Linked DNA regions of Homo sapiens: region 1 is linked to region 2. Evidence: fine-mapped expression QTL. A gene starts in region 2. The other region holds a variant in brackets. All regions are shown on one strand. Distances are between the middles of the regions. Region 1 holds the start of LOC105375740 (a long non-coding RNA gene). Region 2 holds the start of TATDN1 (TatD DNase domain containing 1).

Region 1 (11,375 bases), 31 kb after region 2:
CTGAACTTCCTGCTAAGTGTGTAGTGTACAAGCTCCGCAGTGAAAGGAAATAGGCATCAGCGTGCACCAAAACATCACCACAGACAGATTGAGCAGATACATCCTGCCCTCTACTCTCAGTGCTAATACACAGGAAGTGGAAACTCATTTGGCTTTGAAAGTTAAATTAAAAGAGTAACAGGACTACTATACCAAGAGAGATAGATGGTACATCATGCTTCCATCTTTCAAGGAGAGGAAAAGAAACTTTCCTACTCGGCAAGCCAAGAACTGACTTCTAACAGAAAATTGCTAGACAACAGTTTTGCAGATGGCAGAACTATTCCAACAGATTTTGTTCCAATAGGGAACAGTACTAATTAATACAGGTGTGGTCGTGGTAGTGGTGGTAGTAGTAGCAGTGACTGACAGAGCAAGAACTCTATTTACTTTATGAAACCCTGAAACAAAAATATGGGGTGAAATGAGGGCATAAGCCATTGTTACTTCCTTCGTTTGTTCTGGCAACAGTGAGATCAGCCTGTGTAAAAATCAACCCAGGTTCACCATTTTTTAGGCCTTAGAAGGTTTTCACTCTGCTAAACAGGAAAATCAAATGTGATCTCATAGAATAGGAAAATCCCTACAACATACAAGTGAGAGAGAATAAGCTACATCCACAAGTCAAGGGCTAATGGGGTTTTCTTTCTGATCCAAAATTAATCCAGAGACTAAAGAGCAAGACCAAAATTATTACCATTCTTTCAGCTCATCATCCCATTTCCTGTTTGAGAATGAGCCATTCTAAGAGATAAGGACTGGCTCCATTGCTCACATTAGCATAAAGAAAAATGACCCGTCCTGAAAGCAAGAGTGGACCCCGGCTTCACTCACCTGCAGACACTGGACTTTCTGGACATGGTGGTGCTGGGGGAAGAGGGTGGCGTCTGATACGACCAGCTGTAATCAGAACCTTTCAAGTCCAGAATCACCTAAGGGGACAGAGCCAGCTGGGTGAATGAGGTGCTGAGAGGGGAAGCGTTAGCCATCAAAGCTTAACATCCACCAAAGCATCAAAACGCTGCCATCGTGGGGGTGGGAATGAAAGCAAAACATGTTAAAAAAATTTTTTTTAAATTGAAGAGCCACAGTACCAAATCCATCAATATCATAATCCTTTTACTGAGAAAGTAAAACTATAATTAATAGGGAGAAGGAAAGGAAGGGAAAAGGAAAATCATGAAATATCAGTCGAGAGAGGGAGAAATACAGTGACCAATTAATAATTTATAACAGCCATTTATACCCAAGGCTAGAATTTACAGGATTTTCCTCTTGTAATGCCATAAAGTTAATCATGGTTCCCAGACTTGTTGGTAGCGCATTTTAACCACTTGATATTCAGTGGTCATTTCTGCCCTATTTGACCAGCACTAGAAATTTTAAAGCCTGACAGAATCAAGAACAAGCCAATTCTTTCACCATTATTTCTATATCTGTCTCCGTTGCTTGACAAAGGACCACATGAGTATAAGGTCCACCTTTCATTCACATAAGAAGCACTCAGTAAATGTTTATTTGTCAAGTGAATGCATGCATGCTCTGGTCTAATAAATATAATTTGATAGAATAGAAAACATGAGCTCCCAAATTTGCCCTCTGAGCCAGCTCTCCAAGGAGACGAAAAGATTGTTACCAAGCACAAAAGCCAGCATGTGATTCATCAGTTCCCCCAAATATGTCTCTTCCCATAGTGTGCGTGTGATGTGAATTAAATGAATAAAGCATAAAAATGTCATCTTTTTCATAAGATGAGAGAGCTCTCCATGCATTGCTCAATTAGAATGGGAGAAATGGAGAATGGTTGACAGTGTCAATCAAAACACACCAGCGACGTGTTCTTAGGAGGGTTGACTTCTAGAGGGCAGATGAACACAGCAATTAAGTGCATGGGATCTGGAACCTGACCAACTTGGTTCAAATATCAGTTCCACTACCTGCTAGCTAGCTGAACCTGGCTAAGTGACTCCATCTCTCAGTGCCTCTGCATCATTCTCTATAAAACAAGCATAATCATGAAGATGAATGGAGGAAGTCAGGCTATGTAAAGAGCTTGGGACAGTGCCTGACACACAATAGGTTCTATGTAACAGCTCGCTGTGGTGATTTCATATATTACATCATGAAGGACGTGGTGAATATGACTACAATTTAAGACGTGACACATGCCACAGGAACACTCAGGGCCTTGAGCTTTTACCTCTTTGGTTTGATCCTGTAAGTGCTTAACCCCTGAAGCCTACCTGTTCACTTGAGGAGGGCAGTTTGTGAGGGTCCATGGTCAGGCTTTTTAGATCTTCCGAGATGGTCTGAAGGTGGGTTATTTCCCCTAGCATTGAGATTTCTTCTTCCTGAAGGAAAAGTCATTCATGAAATGTTATTATCATGAGTGATTCCCTTCATCGCTCTAGTCCAATTGTTTTCATTAGGGTCTCTGTATAACCCTTTCAGTTTTTCAGAAAAGGCACTGTTGGGACTGGCAAATCTTTGCTGAAGGCACTACATGCCTTTTCTTTTGGGAAATGAGATGGAAAAAGAAATCTGCCATAATGGAGGAGTGACCTGTGCACAGGGGACAGTGGGGAACACACAGGCCTCCCTCCCAGGGCCTGGGGGACTGCCAGGCCTGCTCAGATGGTCTGACTGTGTGTTCCCACGGGATCCTGCAGCACAGCCCTCTTCATACTGTGGCCCTTTTCTGAAGTTGCTTAGCTTCAATGGATGACACGACTTGGATATATTTTGGTCCAGATCTTTGTGACAGTGCCTGTGTGTTCAACAGAAGCTAACTTTTCCCCTTCTTTCTTGTGCTTTTCCAGCAACTTAGTAAAAGACAAGTAAGACAGGAGCTGGGGACCATGGAAGAAACATCCCATGTGCTTTATCGAAGTGCCAAGTTGGGACCACGGGCCGGGCTAGAACGATCCATGGAAAAGTTCTGTGCTCAGGGGAACAACTCAAATTCAGACATTTTGCTAGGGCTAAGGGAAATGAGCTGGTACCTTCGAATCAGCTTCCAGAACGCCTGCAGTGCAAGTTCTCAATTACGGCATGCAAATGATTTCCTTAAAAATTAAGTCTAAATTGATTCATTGAGGCTCTTGGATATTCATCTCATGGTCACCCCTTAGTACTCGGCTACAACAGTGAGTCTCAAAACCACCTGGAGTGCTCCTTTAAAACACAGACGACTGGGTCCCCACCCCCAGAGGTTTGGACTTGGTGGGTCTGGGTTGGGCCCAAGAACTTGCATTTCTAGCCAGTTCCCACGTGATGCTGCTGACCTGGGGACCTCACTTTGAGAACCACCCTGCTGGGCCTTCTTGACTTGGTGAGACAAAGTAACGGGGAACAAGTGGTACTAGAACAGTGAATGAGGAGTGAGCTACATGGCCATCAACTTGCACTGAATCGCTGGTCTGTACAGGAGATACCACCATCATGATTCCTGACAGTAGATTCTCCATGACTCAACAGTGGATGGATAAAATTAGAAGGAAGCCACCTCTACACCAGCAGTTTAAACCTTCTGGAGTTTTCCATTAACTTACAATCACTGGCCGCAGCATAGAGATGAAGGTACAGAATCGGCCACGTTCTTCAATCAAAGCCTTCCGGACAGCCTGCTTTTCTGTTTCTTCCAATAAGAGATACTTATCATTGACATCTTGGAGAGCACTGTCCAACTGAGGCTGGATATCACCTCTCCCTGCAAAAAACAGAGACCCAAGCACGGCTTGCTGAAATACCAGCTTCTGGAACAAGTGCCCCTCCTCCCTGGGGTCCTTGCTGGAGTCAAAACCACAATTTTCCAGGATGTAAAAAAAGTATTTATTCATGCCCCAAAAGGATTTAAGGCAGCTGTTTTTCTAGGACCAGCCATTTCCAATTTTCAATGCCCAAAGGGCACATTTAGCCTGGCTTATTCCTGACAAGGAAAATGTCCTGGGGCAACTCTTCATGACTTGCCTTCTCACACTGCACAACCCCCACCAACTCTTCTGCCAACACAACCCTGGAACACAGAGCCAGACAGCATTCTTTCCTTGCAGAACATTCTGAAGAGGCTAAGAGATGTGGAAACAAGGTAAGAGCCT[G/A]TGGGTGTTTCCAAAAACGGGCACGGGCTGGCTTTGTTGGGTCAATCTCAATCAAAGAGCCTCTGTCTGGATAGAAGGATCTGCTCCTAAAGACAAAGGTGGCAAGCATCCGCTCTCCTGGCTCTGGGGGCCCATGGGAATCCTTGGCAGTTCCTTTGACTCTCTAGTGGAGAGTCTTGAATGCTCTTGCTGTAGAACAAGCCCAGTAATAACAAGACCTCCAGACAGGTCTCTGATGATGAAAAACTGAAAGTGGGGTCTATGCGGAGCCTGGCCCATGTTTAGGAATTATCTGGCCAGGTCCACAGACCCCAGTTAGGTGCAGGCAACCACTTCTGGAGTTTAAGACAGGGTGTTAGTCTTTTGAATGACTAACACATGGTCAGCAAACCATCTTTGCAAATAAAGTTTTATTAGAACACAGCCAAATCCATTTATTTACCATATTGCCTGTACCAGTTCTCCCTACAATGGCAGAGTAGTGTGACACAGAGTATGGCCCCCAGACCATGGCCTCTTGCAAAAGAAGCCTGCTGCCCTAAAAGATAAACATGGACCAAGAGGCACTGTGTCCAAAGGAGCAGCTACTACAAATCTGATCTGTAGGTGGGGACAGCAGGGTGACAGCAGGGGACACCAGCTCATGAGCTTCCACCTTGGGCTGCCTATGCAGGGGCCTTACCTATCACTCAAACCAGAGAGATACTTCCTAAACTTCTTCAGGGCAGGATTTTGGTCTTTCCCAGCACAGCCCCTAGTACAATGTCATGTGTGTATACAGCAGGTGCTTGATAAATGTCTGTTTAATAGTTTCAACACAAAATGTTAGAGCTGGAAGGGGTTATCCAATTGGGCCAATCTGCTCATGTTTCAATGGAGACCAAGTCCTAGAGAAGTCAAGGGACTCACCTAAGGTCACAGAAAGAATGGTACAGAGGCAGGGTTGAGCCACACTGCCTAATTCCCTTAACACTGAACCTATTCTCTGCCCCACCGCCTCGCAGGAAGGGCCCTGCAGTTTCCATCTATCCCTCTTAGTGATGTAGAGAACATTAAATGCAATGAACCATTTGGTCTGAAGAAAGAAAGGGTCAGGGAAAATTGCCTTGGATGTAGGAACATATTCTGTATTTTTCACTCATAAGCAGAGGAGAAAGTTTAATTTGGAGCAAGAGGCAATCAGGCTTAAAGCACATCCCAATAGAAAAGGTAGTCAGATTTTAGTAAGGAAAAGTCACTTCTCAGACAGGGAATAAGTTCTAAGTTAGCACATTATGAGAAAATTATAGTCAAAGATCACCCTTGAAAATGCCTTAGATGGCCAGTAAATACAGTATGGACAGCTTTGTGTATATAACTCTCATCAGTCAAGTGAGTACAAATGTGTAGATAGTATGTATCTAAGTCCACGGAGGGGTGCTACCCAACGATTATACTACACTGGCCCCTCCTCTGTGGTTTTGCTTTCCAAAGTTTCAGCTACCCATGGTGTGGTAAAATACGGTATTTTGAAAGAGAGAAAGAGACTACATTCGCATGACTTTTATTACAGTATATTGTTATAATTGTTCTATTATTATTGTTGTTAATCTCTTACTGTGCCTAAATTATGTATTAAACTTTACCATAGACATGTATGCATGGGAAAAACCACAGTATATGTAAGGTTCGGGTACTATCTGCAGTTTTAGGCATCCACGGGGGGTCTTGGAACATATCCCCTGAGGAGAAGGGGGAACTACTATATATAAGAAATTTGCTGCTTGAGAAGTCTCTGCATAATTTTCTCCTTTTTGGAGACAGAGTCTTGCTCTGTCACTCAGGCTGGAGTGCAGTGGAATGATCATAGCTCATTGCAGCCTCAGCCTCTTAAGCAGCTGGGACTACCAGCGTGCACCACCATGCCCAGCTAGTTTTTCAATTTTTTTTTATAAAGATTGGGTCTTGCTTTATTGGCCAGACGGTCTTGAACTCCTGGCCTCAAGTGATCCTCCCACCTCAGCCTCCCAAAGTGCTGGGATTACAGACATGAGCCACAGCGCCTGGGTGTTTCAGCATATTTTCAAGGTGACCCACTCACCCATTCTTCCATGTAGTCACTACCTCCACCCCTCAGAATAATTCTTTACCATGCCTTCAATTTCTTCCTCAAGGATGTAGGAGTAATCATCACCATACATTAATCTGGCCACCTGAGCCACTGGTTTCATGTGTTTTTAGTAGACAAGAAACCTGTAAAAACATTCTCCCATTCTCTCCTGGAATCTGCCTCAGGGCAGGTGCTCTGTTCACAGAGACCCACCACCTGTGGCCAACGGCTTACAGAGGGAAGGCTGGGTGCCACCAGCACTATGAAAACTGTGAGTTTTCTCTTCTATTTTAAAATGCTGGCTAGTGCAAAATTAATCCAGATATACTTAATGTGTGTATGATACGAGTCCACCAGCAGGGAAGCTCTGGAAAGCTGTAAACCCTTGCTTTTCCTCTGCAAGCAGCCAAACAGCATGGCCAATTGTGGGCCTTGTTGGGTCACATGACTCAGGGCTGGTCTAGAGGGCTACTTCTAGTCTCTCGATCTATTCTATGATGTTCTAATAACAAAACACAGAGGGCTGCAGACCACCTCAGAATGTTCTCAACTCTCGTGTAGGATGGTGAACAGAAGTCGGGAGACACCAGATTGAGACACATTGTGTTTGACCAAACTTGCTCGGTGGGCTTTGATTATGGTAGCAATTTAAAAAAATAACAGCCTATGAGGCCGGGAACGGTGGCTCATGCTTCTAATCCCAGCACTTTGGGAGGCCGCGGCGGGCGGATCATGAGGTCAGGAGTTCAAGACCAGCCTGGCCAATATGGTGAAACCCCGTCTCTACTAAAAGTACAAAAATTAGCTGGGTGTGGTGGCACACGCCTGTAGTCCCAGCCACTGGGGAGGCTGAGGCAGAAGAATTGCTTGAACCTGGGAGGGGGAGGTTGCAGTGAGCTGAGATCATGCCACTGCACTCCAGCCTGGGCGACAGAGCAAGACTCCATCTAAAATAAATAAATAGATAAAATAAAATTAAAAAATAACAGCCTGTGATTGTCAGAAATTGGAAAAATGTATCTTTACTTCCTTTCACAAGTTATAAGGCACATGTCTATCCATAATTAATAATGCTGACTTTAAAAACTGTATCTACATAGGAAAGAAAAAAAGGCCACTGAACCCAGTGTTATCTAATTTGGAAAATATAAATTTAAGTTATCCTATGATTATAGCAAAGTTATTTTAAATGTGTATTATAATTAAAGGACTCTCAAATTGTAGCATTCTAAAATAAGTATACTCTGTAAAGATTGCTATAATTATAGTCAAGACATTTCCATTCAGGATAGATGATAAGCTAAAACTACAATGTTTATTTATTAAATTCACTAATACAACATGTAATTATATTTATAAAAAAAAACTGTGAAAGAAATTATTTCATGTCCCAGTTGGATATACTGGTTTTAAGATAGAGTGATCTTTTGAGGTCCACAAATTCAGAGAGTTGTGTTGGTACTGATTTAATATATACAAAAGCCCATTCTCTTCACTCCCATCGGCAGTGTTAGGAGAGTCACCACTGACTCCTTGAGCGCTGGTCCTGGCTATTCCAGCTCCCACGGACTTGACTCCATCCTCGTCTCACCTCTGCTACCTCTACCCTCACTGGGCCATCACGATCTCTCACCTGAACAGATGCCAACAGCCCCTAATGTCTCACCCCAGACTGCACTTGGACTAGCTCGCCCAGAGCAGCCCTGGGCTACTTTCTTTCTTTTCTTTTCTTTTTTTTTTTTTTTTTGAGACAGAGTCTCGCTCTGTTGCCCAGGCTGGATGGAGTGCAGTGGCGTGATCTCAGCTCACTGCAACCTCCGCCTGCCAGGTTCAAGAGATTCTCTTGCCTTAGCCACCCAAGTAGCTGGGATTACAGGCATGTACCACCATGCCCAGCTAATTTTTGTATTTTTAGTAGAGACAGGATTTCACCATGTTGGCCAGGCTGGTCTTGAACCCCTGACCTCAAGTGATCCACCTGCCTCGGCCTCCCAAAGTGCTGGGATTACAGGCATGAGCCACCACACCCGGCTGTGGATTACTTTCAAAATGCAAATATTCTCACTGCTTTTCAACAGCTCCCATTGCTCGCAAGAAAAGAACAATATCCTTAACATGGCCTGCCCTGCAAGGCATGAAAGGTCATTGCCTGTCTACCTCATAGCCTCAGCCTTTGTGGGCCATTCTCTCCCTCTCTCCTCTCCCTCTCATCCTCCAGGGCCTGGGCCCCTTCCCATCTTCACTCTGCTGTCCCTCTGCTACATTCCTAACACCTTTTATCCTACAGGTCTCGCTTAATTCTCGATCCTTCAGGGAATCCTGCTGTGAACTTTCTCCCCAGATTAGGCTTCTCTTACTTGATCTCTGAAATCCCTTATACTTATTCACAGCACTACCCCCGGTTTGAATTTCATCTTTATTTCTCTAGTTATTTGATTGACGTCAGTCTCCCCTAGTCAGGGGGCAGTCCCACGGGGGCAGAACCCATGAATGCTTTTGCTCAGTACTGTATCTCCTCAGTCAGCACACTTGCCTGGAAGGCGGCAGGTGTTCAAATATTTGTAAATGAATCAAGCATTGATACAACGTGACCAAGTTTGCTCACTGGCCTCAACCATCATTCCCTTAAATGGCCTAATACTTCAGAACCACCCAATTCCAGGACCATCAAGCAGCCAAGAGGAGGAGGGAGGGGGTGCCTTCGATGGGCTTCCCAGACAAAATTCTTGAGCAAAGAATTGCTTTCGGCTTTCTTCTGTAATATCTTAGGCATCTTCAGTCTTGAGTTTTGTTTTTTTCCTGGTGCTAGTTTCCAGGTCTTGTGTATTCACGCTGGGGAATTCTGATGAACAGCAGCCAGGAGCCCCTTATCCCCCCACCCCAGGGGATATCATGATGATTCTCTTTGCAGAAAATGTTCCTGGGGCAAAGCATTGTGAATGCACCATGTCATGGGCCAAGGCAGCACCCCTAAAGAAGGAAGGAATTTTTTTTTTTGAGACAGAGTCTCGCTCTGTTGCCTAGGCTGGAGTGCAGCGGCACAATCTCAGCTCACTGAAACCTCTGCCTCCTGGGTTCAAGACAGTATGTCCGACTAATTTTTGTATTTTTTGTAGAGACAGGGTTTTACTATGTTGGCCAGGCTGGTCTCGAACTCCTGACCTTAAGTGATCTGCCTGCCTCGGCCTCCCAAACTGCTGGGATCACAGTGTGAGCCACCACACCCGGCCACAGAAGGAAGGAATTTTTAAATGAGGAAACTTTACAGAGTTTTCTGGAATGAAATAAAGATCCTGTATCAACTTCAACACTTGCATTTTATTTTCCTTAATCATTATTACATAACACATTCAAGGCAGGAATGAATATCCGTTTTGATAGATGGGGAAACTGAGACTGAGGGAGGCAAAGTGGTCTGCACAGGGCCACAATCATGAGCACTAAGCCAGCCACGGGCACAGCTAGAATCCAGCCCCAAGTCTTTCTCGTTCTGAAGACGAGGTTCTTTGTGTTTCCTACTCACAGCAAACATGAATGCTGGGAACAAGCTGCCAGGAGCTAAACAGCCGATCAAAAAGCCAGTGAAATGTGATTCGTATTATCTGTACTGGCCCAGCCTCTTCAGACACAAGCTGCACTCACATGGTAAGCTTCCTGGCTCAACAAGCCAGTGGCTGTTCTCTGGCAAAGGGCTCTCCAACGGGGAAGAGCAAACCCAGAATACATTGGGCCAAGAATGCTGCCAGGAGTCAGCAAAACACCCCAAGTCCTTTCTTTCTTCGGAGAGAGGTGTATGGAGAAGCCATTAGAATCCTGCAAAATGACTTTCACCTGCCCCTGACTCACACAAATTCATTCTAAGATATTTCATTCTAAGAGAGCCACTTTCCCCCATTTTTACACCTCACCAATCAGGGTGTGTCTTACAATCAATGGTGTGTCACAGTTTAATCGGTAGGTTTTTTTTTTCCTTTCTTAGTGGTCTGGAAAATAATGGTGCATCTGACAATTGCTTGTATCCCAGAGTCAAATGAAACATGGGATATAAATACTAAAATACAAAATATAAATCCAGAAATGGACATGCAAGGTGACACTGGAGATTAGAATTTGGAATGAAAAATTCTGTCTTCCCAGCAAAAGGAGGCTATCCTCATTATCCCTTTATAAGTCATCTTCTACTCTTAATAACCCACAGTGGGTTTTGACTGATTCCCAAAAGAAAAATCCAACCCGAAATCAAAAGATAGATGTGATTAGATAAGACTGAAGGCTTTTAGCCTTAAAATTTTTCAAACAAACTCAATTTCCGTTATTTTTCAACCTACTGTGCCCCAGTTTCCCTTTACCTGTGGGATGTAAATAATAACAGTATTGAGCTCACAGGGCTGCTGGAAGGGGAAATGAACTAATCCACATGAAGCATTCAGAACAACGCCCGGCACGTGCTGAGCACTCACTAAATGTCAGGCACTATCAGCTGCCACCACAGCATCTCTGAAGTTGTCCTTCTGACACTGGGTAGTTTAGCAGGTGATAGTATGCAGGGTAGGGTGGGTTTTTTGTTGTTGTTGTTTGTTTGTTTGTTTTTTAAAGAGAGCTTTCAGTTCAAGGTCGTTTTTGATGTAAGAAAATGCAAAAGATCCCATGATTCTTTCACTACAAGTAGGAGTTTTATCATCAAGATTCTTCACTGGTCCCTGGGCAATCAGTTGTTTATCAAAGCAAAGGATAAAAAGAGACATTTCAGAGAACAACTAGAAAACGTCCCAGGCCAACCTGCAGCTCACCATCCAGAGTGTCTCCAACAGAGCATCCTCACGGCTCCAAAATGCTTCTTCCTTGGTGGTTAAAGAAATACTCCACCATCTGCCAACCTGACTACCGGATCCAGAAATTTACCATTGCCTTCAACTCTTCCTTCTTTCATTTGCATTTCTCCTAAGTAGCTCTTGAATCCACCTGTCTTCCTCTCTATCTCTGTGGTCACTTCCCTGAGCCCAGGCCACCATCATCTGTCACCTAGACAACAACCACCACTTGCTAACTGGATGTCCAGTTAAGCCACAGTCTAATCCAAATACACACTGTCACGGTGGAATTATCTAGAAGCCAAAAAGGCTTCAAGGGCTTCAGCAGAGTCCTTTAAT
Region 2 (13,246 bases):
CTAGAGCATGCCAAAATCATGGGCAACTCCAAAGACATACGTGCTGTCTGCATAAATATTAACCGTTTCACCCCAGGCCAGTAGGCAGGCCCAAGTGAGGGGATGCTAATTCTGCTCGTTGGGCAGATCGGGCAGTTGGCTGGGGGCCTGATTCAATGATTCCCATCACAGAGACCACCACATAGGCTGCATAATGGAAGCCAGCAGAATTTTTGAGAAAGGATCCATTAGTGGGTAAGGGGGTCTCCCTTAAGTCTATATGAGGTGAGAGAAAAGTGTCTGTAAAGACAACACAGTCTTTGGGTGCGTTAATCTCTTATTAAAGGCAAAACGGGGCCAGGTGTAGTGGCTCATGCCTGTAATCCCAGCACTTTAGGAGGCCGAGGTGGGCAGATGACGAGGTCAGGAGATCGAGACCGTCCTGGCTAACACGGTAAAACCCCGTCTCTACTAAAAATACAAAACATTAGCCGGGCGTGGTGGCAGGCGCCTGTAGTCCCAGCTACTCAGGAGGCTGAGGCAGGAGAATGGTGTGAATCCGGGAGGTGGAGCTTGCAGTGAGCCAAGATGGCGCCACTGCACTACAGCCTGGGCGACAGAGTGAGACTCTGTCTCAAAAAAAAAAAACGCAAAATGGTAGCTACATTAAGGAGGTTACAGTAAATTATGGTTAGGTTAGAAGAGGAGAAAAGTATCTCATAGGAGGTCAATCAACTGGCTTAAAGATGCTGAGTGAGGGGACAGGTGCAAAGGGCCTAAATTGAATGAGAAACATATACAACGAGAGGGGATCCCAGGAGTAATTTTTTGGTAGCCTTGATGAGGCCTGAGGGGGTGGCAACTGCCCTCAGTACAGGAAGGAATGCCTTGTGAAACTGGTCAGCTGTCATGGTGAAACTGCAAAAAAGGAGGGGAGCTGGTCCCAATGTCAGGCAGTTGGCTGAAGTCAGCAGAGGAGCAAGTCTTCCAATCTTTGTTTTTCCAGGGCTGGTTTCTGTTCAACTTGTAGGAAAAAAGTCTGGTATTGGTTAGTAAGGAAGGAGACCAGGACCAACCCCTCATCTTGTCATGTTTGGGAATCTTAGTTTTTCATGTTTTTCTGGGGTCTACTTGGTCGAGGGGGGTTCTGTTCAGCCAGTTTAGGGGGCTTAGAATTTTATTTTTATTTCACAGGCACAACCAGCACAGCTGCTTTGGTAAGTCAGTGACATTAAAAAAAGAAATGTGTGGCAGGGCGCGATGGCTCACGCCTATAATCCCAGCACTTTGGGAGGCTGAGGCAGGAGGATCACGAGGTCAGGAGATCGAGACCATCCTGGCTAACACAGTGAAACCCCGTCTCTACTAAAAATACAAAAAATTAGCCGGGCGTGGTAGTGGGCGCCTGTAGTCCCAGCTACTCGGGAGGCTGAGGCAGGAGAATGGCGTGAACCTGGGAGGCGGAGCTTGCAGTGAGCCCAGACTGCACCACTACACTCCAGCCTGGGCAACAGAGCGAGACTCCGTCTCAAAAAAAAAAAAAAAAAAAAAAAAAAAAAAAAAAGAAATGCGCTAGAGCAAGGGATTGGTAAACTAAGGCCCACAAGCCACTGCCTACTTTTGTTTGCCTCTAAGCTAAGAATGACTTTACATTTTTAAATAGTTGAAGAAAATCAAAAGAATATTTTGTGACACATCAAAATTATAAGAACTTCAAGTTTCAGTGACCGTAAGTTTTACTGGAACATAGCCACACCTATTTACATACTGTCTATCACCTGCTTTTGAATGACAAGGTGTGAGATAGGAAAAAATGCAAACTGCTTTCTCCTACAGTATTCTCATACTCACAATACTCTGAATTTTTTGTTTGTTTGTTTTAAGTAGAGATGGGGTCTCACTTTGTTGCCCAGGCTGGTCTTGAACTCCCGGGCTCAAGCAGTCCTCCCACCTTGGCCTCCCAAAGTGCTTGGATTACAGGCGTGAGGATTCACTTCTGACGTCAGGTATGTGTGGGGTTTCCTCTCCCAACAACCAATTCTCTGACACCAGCTGGGTGACCTATAATTTAACTCAATTCTCACACTATCTACCTGGATATAACATCAGACCGCAGAGGTCAAGGGCTCAGTCCCACAAGACTCTCCCCATTTCAGATACCAATTACAAGCAGTAGGTTCCCAGGTTACCCACAACTTGTCTAACTTGGCTACAATAAGAGGTTCCCACAACCCCCTTCTCAGGTTTGATCATTTGCTAGAGCAGCTCACGGAACTCAGGAAAGCACTTTACTTATTACCCATTCATTGTAAAAAGATGCCATTCAAAAACGGCCAGGTGGAAGAGACACATAGAGACATGTATGGGTTTTTATAGAGGCTTCACCATGTAGGTATGATTGATTAAATCACTGGCCATTAGTGAACAACTCAACCTTCAGTTTCTCTCCCCTTCCCCAGAAGTGGGAGTGGGTGGGAGGGACTGAAACTTCCAACTCTCTAATCACATGATGGGTTTTCCTAGGCAAACCCCCATCCTGAGGCTATCCAGGAGCCCCCAGCCATCAGTCATCTTAGCAGCATACAAAAAGACACTTAGCACTTAGGAGATTCCAAGGGTTTCAGGAGTTGTGCACAAAGAAATGGGAGCAGAGAACACACACGTATTTACTATTACATCACAGTACACAAAAGGGCAGAGTTGAATAGCTGCAATAGAGATCACGTGGCCCTCAAAGTCTAAAATATTTACTATATGGCCCTTTAAGGAAAAAGTTTGCAAACCTCTGCACTTGATTCAAAAATTTAAGGAACAACCAAATGTGTGGCTCTAAATGGGATACCATTTTGGACATGACCACCAAGGGACATTTTTGGAACAACAGGAAAAATTTGAGTATGATTTTGGTACTAGTTAAGATGAACATTTCCTGAAATGGAAAGGTGGAGACTGTGATTGAAAAAAGCAGAGCACAAAAGAGTAGCCTCAGTATGATCTTATTTTGTTTGGTATGCCTACAGAAGATCTGGAAAGATAGACATGGTGGTGTTATGTGTGATTTGGAGGAACTGTATTAATCTGCTTTTGCATTGCTATAAAGGAATACCTGAGACTGGGTGATTTATAAAGAAAAGAGGTGTATTTGGCTCATGGTTCTGCAGGTTGTACAAGATGCATGACACCAACATCTGCTTTTGGGAGGATCTCAGTAAGCTTCCAATCCTGGTGGAAAGGGAAGGGGAGCCAGTGTGAACTCATTACCACAGGGAGGCCATCAAGCCTTTCATGAGGGATCCACCCCCATGAGATGGATGTTGGGAAGTGACCCAAACACCTCCCACTGGACCACCTCAACATTGGAGAGCAAATTTTAACATGAGATTTGGAGGGGACAAATATCTAAACTATATCAGGAATGGAATATGATGTTTTTATTTTCACTGTTGTTTGTATTTTGCATTTTCTTCTTGCACAGATATTTCTCATTTTTTGGTGTACTATGTAGTCTAAGATCAATGCAGTAGAGATTCTGGCATATAATAGTTACAGGTAGAAGTATTTTTGAGAGTGGAAGAGTTTGTAAATAACACCCAGGGAATAGAATTCCACTTGTGGAGACAGAAAAGAGAGTATAAGCTGGGCTAAAGAAATTCTCATGCTGGCCAGTGGCTCCACGTGTAATCCCAGAACTTTGGGAGGCGGAGGTGGAAGGACTGCTTAAGGCCAGCAATTCAAGACCAGCCTGAGCAACATAGCAGGACACAGTGGTCTACAAAAAAAAATTAGCCTGGTATGGTGGTGAGCACCTCTAGTCTCAGCTACTTGGGAGGATGAGGCAGGAAGATCACTTGAGCCTAGGAGGTCAATGCTGGAGCCATGATCTAAGCCACTGTACTCCAGCCTAGGTGACAGAGCAAGACCCTGTCTCAAAACAAACAAAAACCCCCACTGTTGGGGTATAGTTCTAAGGGGCAGCCACTTGTTATGCAAGTAGAAAAGAGAGAAATGTAGAAAGAATTACAATGGTCAGCTGTCTTAAACCAAAATCTAAGGTAATTTTCATAAAATGGGTTCAATTTTTCATGCAATTGTCCCATGTGAAGCTTGTTCCAGGGATTTAATATGATGTTTTTCAAAATATTGTTCAGAACTCATTATTAGGCTAAGAAATTAGTCTAGCGATTCATGGGCAGAATTTTTTAAATGACACAAACTGAAAGATTAAATATCAGAGTAAGTCATATACCAAGGATAGAATGCATAATATGATCTCATTTCTGTTTCAAAAGGAAAAAAAAAAACCTTGATATGTTGTATTTTTATGAATCTGTATAACAATCTATTAAAAAATTAGGGAAGGCTATACTTCAAACTTTTAATATGGTTACTTTAGGAGAGTGGGGCTAAAGGAAACCATACAGAAAAAAATTTATTTCAATTATTTATTCCAATAAAGTCACCTTCTTTAAGAAGTCTTTTCTTGCTTATTTTATCTGATGCTAATCCCTTTACTAATTTTCTTATCACCTTAGCACTAAAGCCACTCATTCATACTTTCCCAAACAGTCATTGTACTACGCCCCTAGGAAAAAAATATAAATACCATACCAGTATCTGCCTTAAGAGTTTGATCTAGTGGGAAAGGCATACTCATATTTAATTATAAATAATGTGGTATAAGTTTTAAGGAGTGAGTAGGCAGACAGGCAACAGGGTAGTTGGTAGGCAGAGGAATATTTTGGCCCCAAACTGCCACTCTAAAACCTTGTCAGAGGTAACAAACAGCATGCACAAGTGTTTATAGAGCAGCCCAGGGATGGGCTAGAAAAGTGGGCAGGACTGGACCACAGAAGGGCTTTGTATGGTGTGTAAGCATTTAGGCTATCCTGAGGAGCGTAAATGAAAGATTTGAAGCAAAAGAAACATTTAGCTGATTTGATTTTTAGATACACCAAAATGGAGTCTACATGGAGGATGGATTTAAGACATTAACTTGAGGCAGGAATTTGGTTGTATAACATAAACACACTTTTAAAAAGTTATGTGGCCTTTCTTTACGGAGTACTTCATGGCTCTTTATTCCATCTCCCTCATCAATTATATCAAAGGTTAGGATGGAAAGGCTAAGACACGGCAATGTCTTATTTGACAACCCCTCCCCAAACCCCTACTCCAGGCTTTCCCACAGCAATTTCAAAACCTTTTTCCTGGCACTTAACATATTCTCCCCTGCATTTGCTTTTGACTGTACAGTACATAGGTCTTAGGTCTCCAGTCTGAAAACTGCACCACTAGATTTTACAGTTCCACAGGACTTAGCACAACGTCTTTGAAAAAAAAAAATACTGCTTAAATAACTCTCAGATCTAAATGTATAATCCTAATCTCTTGATTGCCAGACCACATTCCCAATTGCCCAGATATCTCTACCTGGATGTCCTATAATTATCTCAAACTTAACCTAATCCAAATGGACCTGGGTACCTCTCTTCACCGCCAAACTAGTCATGCTTCCATTTCATATTTAAGTACTTTTCCAAACCCTGAGTCATCTTTGTTCACTCTCTACTACCGGCCATGAACACTCAGCTGCTAAATGCTGCACACATCTCTTCCATTTCTCTCTCTTTTCCATTACCCTAGTTTAAGCTCTTGAAATGCTTCCCTACCTCTCCCTATTTCCCACAAAACCTACATAATAGCTATCAGGATTACCTTGCTAAAGCAGAGGTGTGATCACTGTCATTTCCCACCTTCAGGTAGCTGGAAACCCCACAAAACGAGGATCATGCCCATTTAAATCCCGCAGCATTCTCCCTCTCGTTCTACTGATGCCGACTGGATCATTGTACTTGCCAAGTACAGTTTGTTTTTCTCCCCATTACTTGTGTTTTCTAGTTTCTCCACCAGATGGTGATGACAGTACAACTGGGAGCTTTGTGCCCTGTGTTCCTAGGCCAGTGCCAGGCCCACTTGAGGCGCTCACTAACTATGATATGAACGAATGAATGCTTGAGTGAATTGGTCCCCAGAAGCGGTCAGCCTCTCCGCCAAGGCAGAGGGGAAGGGCCGGGAGGTGCACGTGGGATGAATGGAAACATAGTGATTGGCCTTTTTGGAGTTTTCTTCTTAAAAAACTGAATACATTACAGATGTTGAAAACAGCACAAAAATCATAACTGTACGGCTTGTTAATTTTTACAAATAAATACACCCTCGTGAATCCAGAACCTAGATCAAGAACCAGAGCATTACCAGCACCCAGAAACCTCCCCGCGCCCTCCTCCACTGAGCGGCCCTTTCAACCCTTACAATGCCGGAGGGCGCAATTCCTGGGTCCTGTGACCTTGGTGACCGACGCCCGGGACAAGTCAGAAAGACCCAAGGGCGTGGAAAACGCTCCTCTTACCGATAAACTTGAAGCGACTCATGACTGCGCATGGAGGACCTCCCCAGCGGAAGCGGAAGTGGCCGCCGGCAACTCCGCCCTTCCGGCTGGCCCCGCTCAGTCACCCGCAGCAGGCGTGCAGTTTCCCGGCTCTCCGCGCGGCCGGGGAAGGTCAGCGCCGTAATGGCGTTCTTGGCGTCGGGACCCTACCTGACCCATCAGCAAAAGGTGTTGCGGCTTTATAAGCGGGCGCTACGCCACCTCGAGTCGTGGTGCGTCCAGAGGTAAGGGATGGGGACCCAGGACTCGGGGAGGTGACCCTCGGGGCCCCATGGAGGTGGAGAGGCCCCTGGGTACCTGGAGGTTCAAGGACTTCGGGAACGGAATTGGAAGGTGGCCTCTCGCTTCACAGAATCCTATGGTAGACCCGGGTTCAAATCCAGGCTTCGCCACTTATGGCCGGGAGACCTTGTAGAGTTGCTTGTCGGGTCTGGGCGTCAGCTTTTTGTTTAGTAAAACGGACGCACGACCAGCGCAGAGGGTCGCAGGAAAATTAAGTGAAATAAAGGAAAGTGCCTAAAATTGTAATTGTCATGGGTCCAGCGCTCGCTCAATCGTTTTCTTCACGATCTTCTCCTTTCCAATATTAACAGCAATAAACTATGCATTATTTTCTTCAGTCTGCAAAACTCTAGGAGTTAGGAATTATCTTAAGCTTATTTTACAGATAAGAAGATGAGCACAGCTGGTAACTTGCGCAAGGTGATAGAGTTTCTAAGTGTCTGAGCCAGGGTTAAAATTTAGGTCTTTCTCCAAAGCATCATCATTCTCCCACCCCTCCCATTAGCTTTTCTCTTTTTAGCTTCATCTAGTCCTTTTCATTACCTTTACATCTTTTTCACCTCTTACATAATTCTCTTTCGACCTCTATCCGTCTGAGACTAGTCTGAGAACATAGTGTTAAAATGTGTAGATTTTAATCACCTAAATTCATTGCAGGGTGGGCTAACAACCCAAGATGTGTGAGTGCCTCGCCTCCACTCCAGTCTTACGACTCTCCAAACGTAGTTTTATAAGAAGGCCTTCTGGGAAAAAAACTCTATGGAAAATGGAGTAGGCCTGGAAGAATTACAGAGGGTACCCTCGAAGCCCAGATTGCATATATGTGACTATTAGAAAATCACTGACATACTTCTCTTGATTTGGCAGGAAGATGGCCAAGTACAATGTGATGGGATTGTTAGTTTCTTCCTTGAGTTTTCCTTATTTATTTATTGATTTGACAGAATTTGCAATTCAGATTCTATGCTCTATGCTAAATATATAAATGTTAGTAAATCCATTTTTGAGCAGCAGCAGCTCACGGATTAGTGGGGAAAATGGACATGTAAACAAATCGATGATGAAGGAAGTTGAGCCATCAGGGATTCAGGTATCCCAACACAAATGGTAAATGTTTGAGGTGATGAATATCCAAATTACCCTGATTTGATCATTATACATTATATGGATGTATTAAAATATCACATGTACCCCATAAATAGGTACAATAATTATGTGTCAAAAAAAGTTAAACATGAAAAAAAGAATTCAAGCAATACTGAACTATAGCTGGGAATACTAAAGTCCATAGTTCTAGAGGAAAATGATATAAACTAGCTACTATGACAGTTATGGCTCAGCATTTTTTAGATCTGACATTCTTTCTCAATCCTTGCCTTAATTTCTTCCTCCATTTGCCCTCATTGTGCTGTTCTCTGTGGTTCCATCCTAGGCATACTGTGTTGTTGTATGTACTCGGGCAGCCTCATTTAGTGCTGTCACCACCTGCGCTCATTTGTCTCTAGAGCTGTAGTTCGAATTGCTTGTTAGATCACGACTGTTGGCTGGGCATGATGGCTCACGCCTATAATCCCAGTACTTTGGGAGGCTGAGGTGAGTGGATCACCTGAGGCCAGGAGTTCAACAGCCTGGCCTACATGTGAAACCGCGTCTCTACTAAAAATACAAAAATTAGCCAGGCGTGGTGGTGGGTGCCTGTAATCCCAGCTACTCATGAGGCTGAGGCAGAAGAACCGCTTGAACCTGGGAGGCAGAGGCTGCAGTGAGCCGAGATAGCCCCATTGCACTCCAGCCTGGGCGACAAGAGTGAAACTTTGTCTCAAAAAATAATAATAAAAAAAAAATTGAAAAGATCACCAACCGTTCTCTCAATCTCCATTTATCTAAATTCTTTGAAATCAAACTTGTTTTCCTGTCACTCCCCATTCTGACTCTTTTCCCAAATTCCCTGCCTCCGCTAATGGTATTATTAGTAATTCAGTTACTGAGCTTTAAGTCTCAGAATTGTTCTCAAGTATTTGCTCCTTATTCCTTTGCCAATAACACACATACTCATACACCATGTATAATTAGACACTGGTTTTTATAAATTCTCTTTCCAGTATGATATTAGTAACTGACATTATTTAACACTTGGGATGTACCAGGCACTTTTTAAAGTGTGTTTATCTTATTGACTGTTTATGACAACCTTAAGATATACACACTGTTATTGCCACTGTTTTACAGAGGAGGAACCCGTGGCCTAGAAGACTTTTTTTGTTTGTTTTTTTGTTAGACGGAGTTTCGCTTATGTTGCCCAGGCTGGAGTGCAGTGGCGCGATCTTGGCTCACCGCAAGTTCCGTCTCCCGGGTTCAAGCAATTCTCCTGCCTCAGTCTCCCGAGTAGCTGGGATTACAGGCATGCGCCACCACGCCTGGCTAATTTTTGTATTTTTAGTAGAGACGGGGTTTTGCCATGTTGGCCAGGCTGGTCTTGAACTCCTGACCTCAGGTGACCTCCACCTCAGCCTCCCAAAGTGCTGGGATTACAGGCGTGAGCCACCGTGCCTGGCCTTTTTGTTGTTGTTGTTGTTGTTTTTTTTTGAGATGAAGTCTCGCTCTTGTCCCCCAGGCTGGAGTGCAAATGGCACAATCTCGACTCACTGCAACCTCTGCCTCCCGGGTTCAAGCTATTCTCCTGCCTTGGCCCCCAGAGTAGCTGGGATTACAGGTGCCTGCCACCACGCCCGGCTAGTTTTTGTATTTTTAGCTGAGACGGGATTTCACCATGTTGGCCAGGCTGGTGTAGAACTCCTCACCTCAGATGATCCCCCTGCCTTGGCCTCCCAAAGTGCTGGGATTACAGGCGTGAGCCACCATGCCCGGCCTCATTTTTGTATTTTTAGTAGAGACGGGGTTTCTCCATGTTGATCAGGCTTGTCTTGAACTCCAGACCTCAGGTGATCCACACGCCTTGGCCTCCCAACGTGCTGGGATTACAGGTGTGAGCCACCGCACCTGACCAGAAGACAGTAACTTACCCCAAGTTACACAGCTAGTAGTGGCAGAGCTAAGATTCAGGCCCATACAGTCTGACTGGAGAGCCTATTCTCATAACTTGGAAGTCTCAATGTCTCCCCTGTCTCCTGTCACCATCACAGCTCCGTACTTTCAGGCCCTCGTCAGCTGTGTCCTAGATTATTGTCAAAACCTCCTAACTGATCTTTGCCCAGTTTCTTTAGAACTTGACTTTAACTTGCCTAAGTTTATGCAGCTAGTGTCAGAGTCAGGATACAAACCTAGCTCTGTATGAGCTAAGCAATACTGTTTCTGCCAAGTAACACCTTTCTTATTCATCTTTGTATCTCCAGAATTTAGCATAGTGACTAGCACAAGATAGAAGGAAATGGAAGTTGTCATTCAATGAATGTTGAATGATCCTGCAGAGGTTATAGCTTTTCTCTTGCGAATGCTCTTTTCTTTTTTTTTTTTTTTTTTTTTGTTTAAATCCTCATTCCATTGTTGGATGTAAGAGGAGAAAAATGGTTAGGGTATATATTTAATACAGTATTTTTTTGCTGCTGCTGTTTGGTGGGCTGTAGAGGAAGCAGCCATGATGATACGGCTGCTCCATTGGGAGGGTTGGGGTAGGTCCACTGCCCATCCAGAAGGTATCAGAAGTGCAGCCTCCTGTCAGACAGCAACACTGACCACGTGAGTAGGTAACATTTCTAATCTTCAAAATCATTTTGGTTTAAGAGACAAATACCGATACTTTGCTTGTTTGATGAGAGCCCGGTTTGAAGAACATAAGAATGAAAAGGATATGGCGAAGGCCACCCAGCTGCTGAAGGAGGCCGAGGAAGAATTCTGGTACCGTCAGCATCCACAGCCATACATCTTCCCTGACTCTCCTGGGGGCACCTCCTATGAGAGATACGATTGCTACAAGGTAGGTGAGAATTATGATGACTGCCTTCTGAGAAATAGACTTTGTTTCTTCAGTCCCACACCTCAGCCTCAGAAATCACTTGCCCTTCAAGGGGTAGCTAGGAGACTTATTTCCTGACAGTTGTCAGATGCAGGCCTACCTCATTTTATTGCATTTTGTTTTATTGTGCTTGGCAGATATTGTATTTTCACAGATTGAAAGTTTGTGGCAACCCCGTGCTGAGCAAGTCTGTGGGCACCATTTTTCCAACAGCATGTGCTCACTCCCTGTCTCTGTTTCTCAGTTTGGCAATTCTTGCAATATTTCAAACTTTTTTTTATTATTACTCTATCTACACACAGTTGTGGTGAACTGTGATCAGTCACCTTTGATGTTACTATTGTCATTGTTTTGGGGCACAAAAAAACCATGCCCACATAAGACAGCAGACTTAATCGATAAATGTGCGTGTGCTGACTGTTTCACCGACCAATAGTTCCTCCGCCTCTATCCCTCTCCTCAGGGTTCCCTATTCCCTAAGACGCAGCAACAGTGAAATTAGGACAATTAACGACCATACCATAGCCTCTAAGTGTTCAAGTGAAAGGAAGAGTTACATGTCTCTCACTTTAAATCCGTTACACGTCTCTTCCTTTAAATCAAAAGCTAGAAATGATTAAGCTTAGTGAGGAAGGCATGTTGAAAGCCAAGGTGGGTAGAAAGCAAGGCCTTTTCCGCTGGTTAGCCAAGTTGTGAATGCAAAGGAAATTAAAGGTTTTTTTAAGGAAATTAAAAGTGCTGCTCCACTAAACACACAAATGATAAGTGAAACTGTCTTATTGCTGATATGGAGAAAGTTTTAGTGGTTGGGACAAAAGATCAAACCAGCCACGACATTCCCTTAAGCCAAAGCCTAATCCAAAGCAAGTCTTTAACTCTTCATTTCTATGAAGGCTGAGAGAGATGAGGAAGCTGCAGAAAAAAAGTTGGAAGCTAATAGAGGTTGGTCCATGAGGTTTAAGGAAAAAAGCCATCTCTGTAACACAGATGTGCAAGGTGAAGCAACAAGTGCTGATGGAAAAGCTGCAGCAAATTATTACACAAAATCTGGCTAAGATAGTTGATGAAGGTGGCTATACTTAACAACAGATTTTCAGTGGAGATGAAGTAGCCTTTTTTTGGAATAAGATACCATGTAGAACTTTCATACCTTGAGAGAAATCAATGCTTGGCTTCAAAACTTCAAGGATAGGCTGACTCTCTTGTTAGGGACTAATGCAGTTGGTGGTTTTAAGTTGAAGCCATTGTTCATTTGCCATTCTGAAAATCCTGAGGCCCTTAAGAATTATGCTAAACCTACTCTGCCTGTGCCCTAGAAATGGAATAACAAAGCCTGAATTACAGCAAATCTGTATACAACATGGTTTACTGAATCTTTTAAGCCCATTGTTGAGACCTGCTACCATGTCTGCTAACACAACATCCATTCTGCAGCCCATGGATCAAGGAGTAATTTCCACTTGCAAGTTTTATTATTTAAGAAATATATTTTGCATAGTTATAGTTGCCATAGATAGTGATTCCTCTGATGGATTTGGGCAAAGTAAAATTTTCTGGAAAGAATTCACCATTCTAAATGCCATTGAGGATATTTATGATTCATGGGAAGAGATCAAAATATCAGCTTTAACGGGGTTGGAAGAAGTTGATTCCAACCCTTGTGGGTGATTTTGAAGGGCTCAAGACTTCAGCAGAAGAAGTAACTGCAGAAGTTGTGGAAATAGCAAGAGAGCCAGAATAGAAGCTGATCCTGAGAATATGACTGAATTGCTGTAATCTCATGATAAATCTTGAGCAGATGAAGAGTTGCTTCTTATGGATGAATACGAAAGTGGTTTCTTGAGATGGAGTCTCCTGGTGAAGTTTTTGTGAACATTGATGATAACAAAGGACTTCGCATAGCACATCAACTTAGTTGATTAAGCAGTAGCAGGGTTTGAGAGGATTGACTCCAATTTTGCAAGAAGTTCTTCTGTGGGTAAAATGCTATCAAATGGCATCACATGCTATAGAAGTGTTTGGTGTAAGGAAGAGTCAGTTGATGTCGCAAACCTCGTTATTTTAGGAAATTGCCAAAGCCACTCCAGCCTTTGGCAATCATCACCCTGATTAGTCACCAGCCATCAACATTGATATAATACTCTCCACCAGTAAAAAGATTGGTTTTCTGATGGCTCAGATGATTGTTGGCAGTTTTTATCAATAACGTATTTCTTTTGTTTTTGTTTGGGAGATGGTCTCCCTCTGTTGCCCAGGCTGGAGTGCAATAGCATGATCATAGCTCACTGCAGCCTGGATCCCCTGGGCTCAAGCAATCCTCCTGTCCTAGCCAACCAAGTAGCTAAGAAAACAGAGGCACAACACCACACCTAGCTAATTTATTTTATTTTTTGTAGAGATGGAATCTTGCTATGTTGTCCAGGCTGGTCTGGAACTCCTACCCTCATAGAATCTCCCTGCCTCAGCCTTCAAAGGGCTGGGACTAAAGGCAGGAGCCACCTCACCCAACCAATAATGTATTTTTAAATTATGTCTTTTTTTTGGTGGAGGGGGACAGAGTTTTG

What was found. PIP is the estimated chance that this variant, and not a neighbour inherited with it, causes the effect.
Region 1: its variant is the best candidate, but not a certain one, in a credible set for the expression of TATDN1 in whole blood (INTERVAL, PIP 0.84).

What each region holds. Positions count from the first base shown.
Region 1 is chr8:124,564,789-124,576,163 of GRCh38, forward strand. MTSS1 (MTSS I-BAR domain containing 1) reads right to left here. Exons shown (of 14, transcript NM_014751.6): 7 at 3,591-3,748; 8 at 2,283-2,390; 9 at 874-971. It overlaps LOC105375740 (a long non-coding RNA gene), which reads left to right and starts at 4,095. Exons shown (of 2, transcript XR_928608.3): 1 at 4,095-4,126. The variant G/A (reference allele first, on the strand shown) is at 4,137.
Region 2 is chr8:124,532,637-124,545,882 of GRCh38, forward strand. TATDN1 (TatD DNase domain containing 1) reads right to left here and starts at 6,449. Exons shown (of 12, transcript NM_032026.4): 1 at 6,389-6,449. The coding sequence starts at 6,410. NDUFB9 (NADH:ubiquinone oxidoreductase subunit B9) reads left to right here and starts at 6,487. Exons shown (of 4, transcript NM_005005.3): 1 at 6,487-6,651; 2 at 10,451-10,643. The coding sequence starts at 6,551. RefSeq lists an enhancer at 6,310-6,379.